2 linked regions of the Homo sapiens genome follow. The protein of the gene in region 1 interacts with the protein of each later gene in a pairwise test. Each region holds a gene or a part of one and is shown in the gene's direction. Other genes may lie near its edges.

The links.
Region 2: the proteins of C5AR2 (region 1) and SCN1B interact in a two-hybrid assay, tested with the Homo sapiens proteins (one large-scale study listed by BioGRID and IntAct).

The regions. Positions count from the first base shown.
Region 1 is NC_000019.10:47,335,046-47,338,853, forward strand, and holds part of C5AR2 (C5a anaphylatoxin chemotactic receptor 2), read left to right. Parts: intron 1-2,049; exon of another isoform or gene 2,050-2,124; intron 2,125-3,808.
Region 2 is NC_000019.10:35,028,662-35,032,569, forward strand, and holds the start of SCN1B (sodium channel regulatory subunit beta-1 isoform a precursor), read left to right. Parts: upstream 1-1,808; 5' UTR 1,809-2,159; coding exon 2,160-2,199; intron 2,200-2,609; exon of another isoform or gene 2,610-3,119; intron 3,120-3,866; coding exon 3,867-3,908. UniProt on the Homo sapiens protein: Regulatory subunit of multiple voltage-gated sodium (Nav) channels directly mediating the depolarization of excitable membranes.

The DNA.
Region 1 (3,808 bases):
AGCTAATTTTTTTTTTTTTTTAAATCTTTAGCAGAGATGAGATTTTATCATGTTGGCCAGGCTGGTCTCAAACTCCTGACCTCAAGTGATCCGTCTGCCTAGGACTCCCAAAGCGTTGGGATTACAGGTGTGAGCTTCTGCACCTGGCCCTGTTTCTCATTATTCTCCTTACCATTGTTATTGAATGGCCTTTAGTTAATAAGCACCACTTGGGCAGACAGTGGACTGTTTTTGATGCTTTGAGGACGAATGGGGTTGATATCTGTACAGATAGACAGGAAAACAGATATCGGGCACGTTAAGTGGAAAAGATGAAGAAATGGAACAACGTATGTTGAAAGCTCCCATTTCTGGTTAAGACGTTACAAAGGAAATGCCATCTACGATACCATTGCTTTGGGCTTACAGCTGGGCAAATTATATGCACAGAAAGTTTCCTGGATTGGGCTGGGCATGTTGACTCACGCCTGTAATCCCAGCACTTTGGGAGGCCGAGGTGGGCGGATCATGAGGTCAGGAGATTGAGACCATCCTGGCTAACACGGTGAAACCCTGTCTCTACTAAAAATACAAAAAATTAGCCGGAAGTGGTAGCGGGCGCCTGTAGTCCCAGCTACTCGGGAGACTGAGGCAGGAGAATCATGCGAACCCGGGAGGTGGAGCTTGCAGTGAGCCGAGATCGCACCACTGCACTCCAGCCTGGGCGACAGAGTGATACTCCGTCTCAAAAAAAAAAAAAAAAAAAAAAAAAAAAAAAGAAAGTTTTCGTTTTCTGGATTGTAATCAACAAGGGCCAGGAAGGGTGGAGTCTTTGCGGGGTGAGAGGATGCGTGTGGACAGTGATAACAGCAGCTAGCCTACGTATGACACCCACTGAAAACCAGCGCTATACACTCAGCTCTACCCTTCTAACTTGTTGAATTCTTACAACACCCCCTAAGGCAGGAATATTATTATTCCCATTTTACTGAGGCACAGATAGTTTAGGTGACTTGCCCAAGGCCACACAGCTGGTAGGAATTTGAGGGTTTTTGTTGTTGTTGTTTGTTTGTTTGTTTTTTATGATGCAGTCTCGCTGTTGTCGCCCAGGCTGGAGTGCAGTGGCATGATCTTGGCTCACTGCAACCTCTGCCTCCCGGGTTCCAGCGATTCTCTTGCCTCAGTCTCCCGAGTAGCTGGAATTACAGGAGCCCACAACCATGCCTGGCTGATTTTTGTATTTTTAGTAGAGACCAGGTTTCACCATGTTGCTCAGGCTGGTCTTGAACTCCTGGCCTCAAGTGATCCGCCCACCTCGGCCTCCCAAAGTGCTGGGATTACAGGTGTGAGCCACTGTGCCCGGCTAGGGGGGGTTCAGTTTTTAAATGCTGTACTCTTTCTTTCTTTCTTTCCTTCCTTCCTTCCTTCCTTCCTTCCTTCCTTCCTTCCTTCCTTCCTTCCTTCCTTTCTTTCTTTCTTTCTTTCTTTTTCTTTCTTTCTTGGGACAGGGTCTCACTCTGTTGCTCAGGCTGGAGTGCAGTGGCGCGATCATGGCTAACTGCAGCCTCAAACTCCTGGGCTCATGTGATCTTCCACCCCAGTCTTAGAAAAGGTTGGGATTGCAGGCACGAACCACTATGCCTGGCTAATTTTTAAATTTTTTGTAGAGACAGAGGGTCTCACTGTGTTGCCTAGGCTGGTCTTGAACTCTTGGCCTCAAGCGATCCTTCCTCCTCAACTCAGCCTCCCAATGTACTGGGATTACAGGTGTGAGCCACTGCACCTGGCTAAATTCTGCACACCTTTTACTCTAGGGATAAAAATAATACGAAAGTGGAATGCCAGACTCCGAATACACACACCAAGTGGCCTGGACTCTTCACTGCTACCTGGCATGGGGGAGGGGAGTGCCCCAACTTCCTCTCTGTCCTTCCTGTTGCCTCAACACCAGCTGGAGTGCTGAGCAGTGCCAGCCAACCCATAATAGTCAGCAGAGAGCCTCAGGGCCAGGTCACTCTGACATTGTGGGGGTGGGGGGGTGGGGACTCCTGCCTGGGTCCTGTGCTACCCACAGCTTTGTCTACCGGAGCCTGTGTGCCACGTGCTGGACAAATCTTAACTCCTCAAGGACTCCCAAAACCAGAGGTAGGTTCACCTCAATGACTCTTGTTTCCCCGATGAGGAAATAGGCACAGCCAGCTGCAACTGACACCCACAGTCATGGAGGCCGGGGCTGCTCAGGACCACTTGCTGTGCTGCCTGCCAGCTCTCCAGAGCCCAAGATTTGGAGATGGTAATATTCTAGGGCATGGGGTTCTGCAGCGGGGACTAACACACTTTGAAATTTACCTACTTAGGGCTGGGCGCGGTGGCTCATGCCTGCAATCCCAGCACTTTGGGAGGCTGAGGTGGGCGGATCACAAGGTCAGGAGTTCGAGACCAGCCTGGCCAATATGATGAAACCCCGTATCTACTAAAAATACACAAATTAGTTGGGCATGGTGGCGGGTGCCTGTAGTCCCAGCTACTCAGGAGGCTGAGGCGGGAGAATTGCTTGAACCCTGGAGGCGGAGGTTGCAGTGAGCCGAGATTGCGTCACTGCACTCCAGCCTGGATGACAGAGCGAGACTCTGTCTCAAAAAAAAAAATTTTACCTACTTAGCTGAGTGATCTTAGGTAAATTACTTAACTTCTCTGTGCCTTATCTGTAGAATAAATATAACAATAGTGTCAAATTCAGACAGTTATTATAAGGTTTCAGTGAGGTCAGGCACGGTGGCTCATGCCTGTAATCCTAGCACTTTGGGAGGCCGTGGCAGGCAGACCACTTGAGGTCAGGAATTCCAAACCAGCCTGACCAACATGGTGAAACCCCGTCTCTACTAAAAATACAAAAAATTAGCCCCGGGCATGGTGGTGCACGCCTGTAATCCCAGCTACTCGGGAGGCTTGTGGCAGGAGTAATGCTTGAACCCAGGAAGCAGAGGTTGCAGTGAGCCAAAATAGCGCCACTGCACTCCAGCCTGGGTAGCAGAGTGAGACTCCGTCTCAAAAAAAAAAATAAATAAAATAAAATAAAACAAGGTTTCAGTGATACAGTGTTTAAAGCTGCGTGGTGGCCACTGCCTGTAGTCCCAGCTACTCAGGGGGCAGAGGTGGGAGGATCACTTGAGCACAGAGTTTGAGGCTGCAGTGAGCCGTGATTGCACCACTGCACTCCAGCGTTGGCAAGATGGCGAGACCCTGTCTCTAAAAAAAATATATATATATAAATTTGCCAGGTGTGGTGGTGCACACCTGTAGTCCCACGTACTCAGGAGGCTGAGGTGGGAGGACCACTTGAGCCCAGGAGTTCGAGGCTGCAGTGAGCCAAGATAGTGCCATTGCATTCCAGCCTGAGTGACAGAGCAATATCTGTCCCTAAAAAAAAAAAAAAAGTTGACACAAAACACAAAATGTTCAAGAAACAGTGGCTTCCAATAATAATAATTTTATTATTATTATTATTGTCAGGCACAGTGGCAATCATGCCTGTAATCCCAGCAGTTTGAGAGGCTGAGACAAGGCAGGTTGCTTAAGCCCCAGAATTCAAGACCAGCATGGGCAACATGGTGAAACCAGATGACCTCCAAAATAATAATAATAATAATAATAATAATAATAATTAATCAGGCATGATGGTGTGCACCTGTAGTCCTAGCTACTTGGGAGGGTGAGGTGGAGGGTTGCTTGAGCCCAGGAGATGGAGGCTGCAGTGAGCTGGGAAAGTGCCGCTGCAGTCCAGTCTGGGCTACAGAGCCAGACCCTGTCTCAAAAAATAGTAATAATA
Region 2 (3,908 bases), about 12 Mb from region 1:
GACAAATATTGATTGAGTACCTACAATGTGCCAGGAACAGTTCAAGGTGCAAGAGACACAAGACAATATCCTCACCTGGGAGATTTTTTTTTTTTTTTTTTTTTTTTTTTTTTACATGGAGTCTCACTCTGTCACCAGGCTGGAGTGCAGTGGTGTGATCTCGGCTCATTGCCACCTCTGCCTCCCGGGTTCAAGCGATTCTCCTGCCTCAGCCTCCTGAGTAGCTGGGACTACAGGCATGTGCCCCCACGCCCAGCTAATTTTTGTATTTTTAGTAGAGATGGGGTTTCACCATGTTGGCCAGGATGGTCTCGATCTCTTGACCTCGTGATCCGCCCACCTCGGCCTCCCAGAATGCTGGAATTACAAGCGTGAGCCACTGCGCCCGGCCTTTTTTTTTGAGACGGAGTTTCGCTCTTGTTGCCCAGGCTGGAGTGCAGTGATGCGATCTTGGCTCACTGCAACCTCTGCCTCCCGGGTTCAAGCGATTCTTCCTCAGCCTCCCAAGTAACTGGGATTACAGGTGCCCACCACCACTCCCAGCTAATTTTTTTTGTATTGTTAGTAGAGACGGGGTTTCACCATGCTCGTCAGGCTGGTCTCGAACTCCTGTCCTCAGGTGATCTGCCCCCCTTGGCCTCCCAAAGTGCTGGGATAGCGGGGGGCGGCTCACATCTGTAATCCCAGCATGGTCAACATGGTGAAACCCTGTCTCTACTAAAAAATAAAAAAATTAGCCAGGCATGATGGTGCACACCTGTACTCCCAGCTACTTGGGAGGTTGCGGCAGGATAATCGCTTGAACCCGGGAGGCGGAGGTTGCAGTGAGACGAGATCAGCCACTGCACTCCAGCCTGGGCAACAGAGCCAGACCCTATCTCAAAAAAAAAAAAAAAAAAAAAAAAAAAAAAAGAACATAATGTCAGGTAGTGAGGCTGCTGTGGAAAACACTCAACAAGAGGTAAAGAGTAAAGGAGGTCAGGTTAGGAGCGGGGAAGGCAGTTTACCCTGAAGGGACACAGAAGACCTGACGAAGGTGACATTGGAGCCATGGAGGCCCACGGAGAGGGGCGGGGCAGGGGGGGAGAGCCGGGGCAGAGGGGAGAGCTGGGGCCAAGGCCCTGAGGCAGGAACGGGTTCCCTGTGTTGGGAACAGCAGGAGGGCCTGAACAGCCAGAGTGGAGTGGGAGGAAAGAGGGGTAGAAGGTGACATCAGGGACATAAATGGGTGCAGGGGATCACGAAGGGGTCCTCCTCCTGAAACAGCACCTCCAGATTCCCGGGGCTGCTTCTCTCCAGGGTGCCCCGCCTGCTTGGGTGAGGTCCGGATTGTAGCTGTAGTCCTAGCCTGACGGCCCCCCACCCTCCTCTAATGCCTACTTGGGGTCCCTGCACATTGACCCCCAGGCCTGGATATCAGGGCTCAGGGGAGATAACTTGGAGGTTCGCCCTCTGGAACTCCTGAGGATGACCTCCATCATTTGAAGTCGGAAACCCGGCCCCCAAACTGCGCTCTAAGTCCTCCTGTGACTCTGGGGGTGACCTTTCCAGACTCCCTGGGAAGGTGGGGGGGGGGGGGTGGTCCTCAGAGCCCCAGCGGGGTCGGAGACACACAGACCACCCTCCCCGTTCCCAGAAGTCGCGGTCCCTGCGCCACCCGGAGAGGCCGGTGCAGCGGGCGCCTCCCGGGCCGCTGCGGCAAAGGCTGGGCGGCCGCGCCTTCCCCCCGCGGTGATTCATCCCGCCCCCTCCCTCTCCTCCCTCGTCCCTCCCTAGGCCGCCGCCGCCGCCGCCGCCGCCGCCGCTGCAGTGCGCAGGAGACCGCGGTCCGCGCCCGAGCGCGCCCGAGCCGGAGCGGGACCGGGGTCGGTGCACCTAGCGGATGTGCCCGGCTGCGCGCGCCAGCGCAGCAGCCCGAGCAGCGGCCGCCGCCCGCGCGGCGGGGATGCCCGGACGCCGGGCCCCGGGGCTGGGCCCCCGGCGGTAACCGGAGCGGGGGGGCCGCGCCCCCCCTCCTCCCCCCTCGCCGGTCCCAGAGCCGCAGCTGCTGCGCCCGCGCGCTCCCGGGGACATTCTAACCGCCGCCAGGTCCCGCCGCCTCTCGCCCCGCTATTAATACCGGCGGCCCGGGAGGGGGGCGCAGCACGCGCCGCGCAGCCATGGGGAGGCTGCTGGCCTTAGTGGTCGGCGCGGCACTGGGTGAGTGCGCGGGGGGCGCGCGCGGCCGGGGGGCACCGCGGGGGCACTGGCGGGGCGGCGGGAGTGGCGCTCGGGACACGGGGCAGCCGCGCGAGGGCCACCCCCGGCCCATCCCCGGGCCCCGCCAAGTCAGCTTCAGAAGTTGTGCGCGCGGGAGCCGGGCTTGGGGAGGGCAGTGGAGGTGAGGGTGGGCTCCAGCGGGTGGGGGCCGGGCTGGCACAGCCTGGCGGCTGCAGGCGCCCAGCCGGGGGCGAGGAAACGCGGAGTCAGCTGCTCCCGGAGCCCCGCAGGCTGCAATGTGACACCCACAGCCGCGGGAGGGGGGTGGGGGGAAGGCGGCGCCCGGAGACTGGGACGGGAAAGACGGAGGGACAGGGAGAGATGAAGACGGGAGGAAGGGGGCGAGAGACAGAGAAGGACTCGGAGCGCACCGGAGTGGTCCGCTGGGATGCTGGGGACATGGGGGTCAAGGGGGAGACGGAGACAGAGAGAGGGGTATTGGAGAGAGAGAGAGAGAGAGAGAGTTAAGAGACTGAGCGCGATGGAGAAAGGGAAACTTGAGAAAGGCAGAAGGAGATGGAGAGAAGAGAGAGGGAGATGCGGGTGCCCGTGAACACCGGGAGAGAATCTTGCATGGAGTTTGAAAAGGGATAGACGTAGAAAGGTGGAAAGAGATTAGGAGAGGTCTCCTTCTGAGCCCAGAGAGTGGACAAAAAGTGGAGGGACCTTCAGAGAGACCCCTGAGAGGGACAAAGATAGGAGGGACTGAGACAGAGGCCCTCAGGGAGTCTGAAAGGGACCGCAGGGGAGGCGGATGGATGAGAAGTCCTGAGGATCAGGAAACAAGGACAGCACAGGGCTGCAGCAGAAGAGACACAGCGTTAGCTACAGAGTGCTGGGAGGCAGAAAGGAGGTGCCAGGTAAGAGTGTGAAGGAATTCTAAGACTGGAATTCAGTGGGCTGCAAAAGCCCTGGGGCAGGAGAGAGCTCAGGAAAGCTTTGAGTAGTGGATGGGGTTGGGGTGGGAAGAGCTCTAGAGGCGAGGAGCCTGGGGAAGAGGGGATGATGGAGGCAGGAGAGGCCGGGGAGGGGATGGCTCACACAGGGGCTTGTGGGCTGTGGAGAGGGGCTGAGTGTGGGTCAGCCCCGGTTTCAGTGCCCACCTCCCCACAATCCCCCACCCCCAGACCTTTTCTCCCAACCCATTTCTCCTGGAGCTAGCTGGTTTTACAATTTAATGGTGAAAATGACTGCCACCTTAAACTTCTAACTTAGCTGGAATTCTCATTCTACCACCTAGATGCTTGGGTTCCTCCAGCAAGGGACTTTCTGAGGAAGGGGCACTCGGGTAGCATAAAGTCTGAGTTACCGGCAACGTTGACAGTCCCACTTATGGGGCCTCCCATGTACAAGGCCCTACCTAATGTATGAAAATGGGCCCAGCCATTGCTGGAAGCAAAGGACCATTTCTTTCAACAAGAGAGAGGGAAACTGAGACTCAGGGATGAATGACTTGCTGAGGTCACGCAGTGAGTGACAGGGCTCAGCCTAGCATCCAGTCCTGTCTGCTGGTAATCATTGAGGGGGGAACAGATGGTTTGTGAGGGGTCTGGCATTGCTTAGGGCAATGGGTGCCTCTGCCTGACCTGAGCCTGCTGTCCCCACAGTGTCCTCAGCCTGCGGGGGCTGCGTGGAGGTGGACTCGGAGA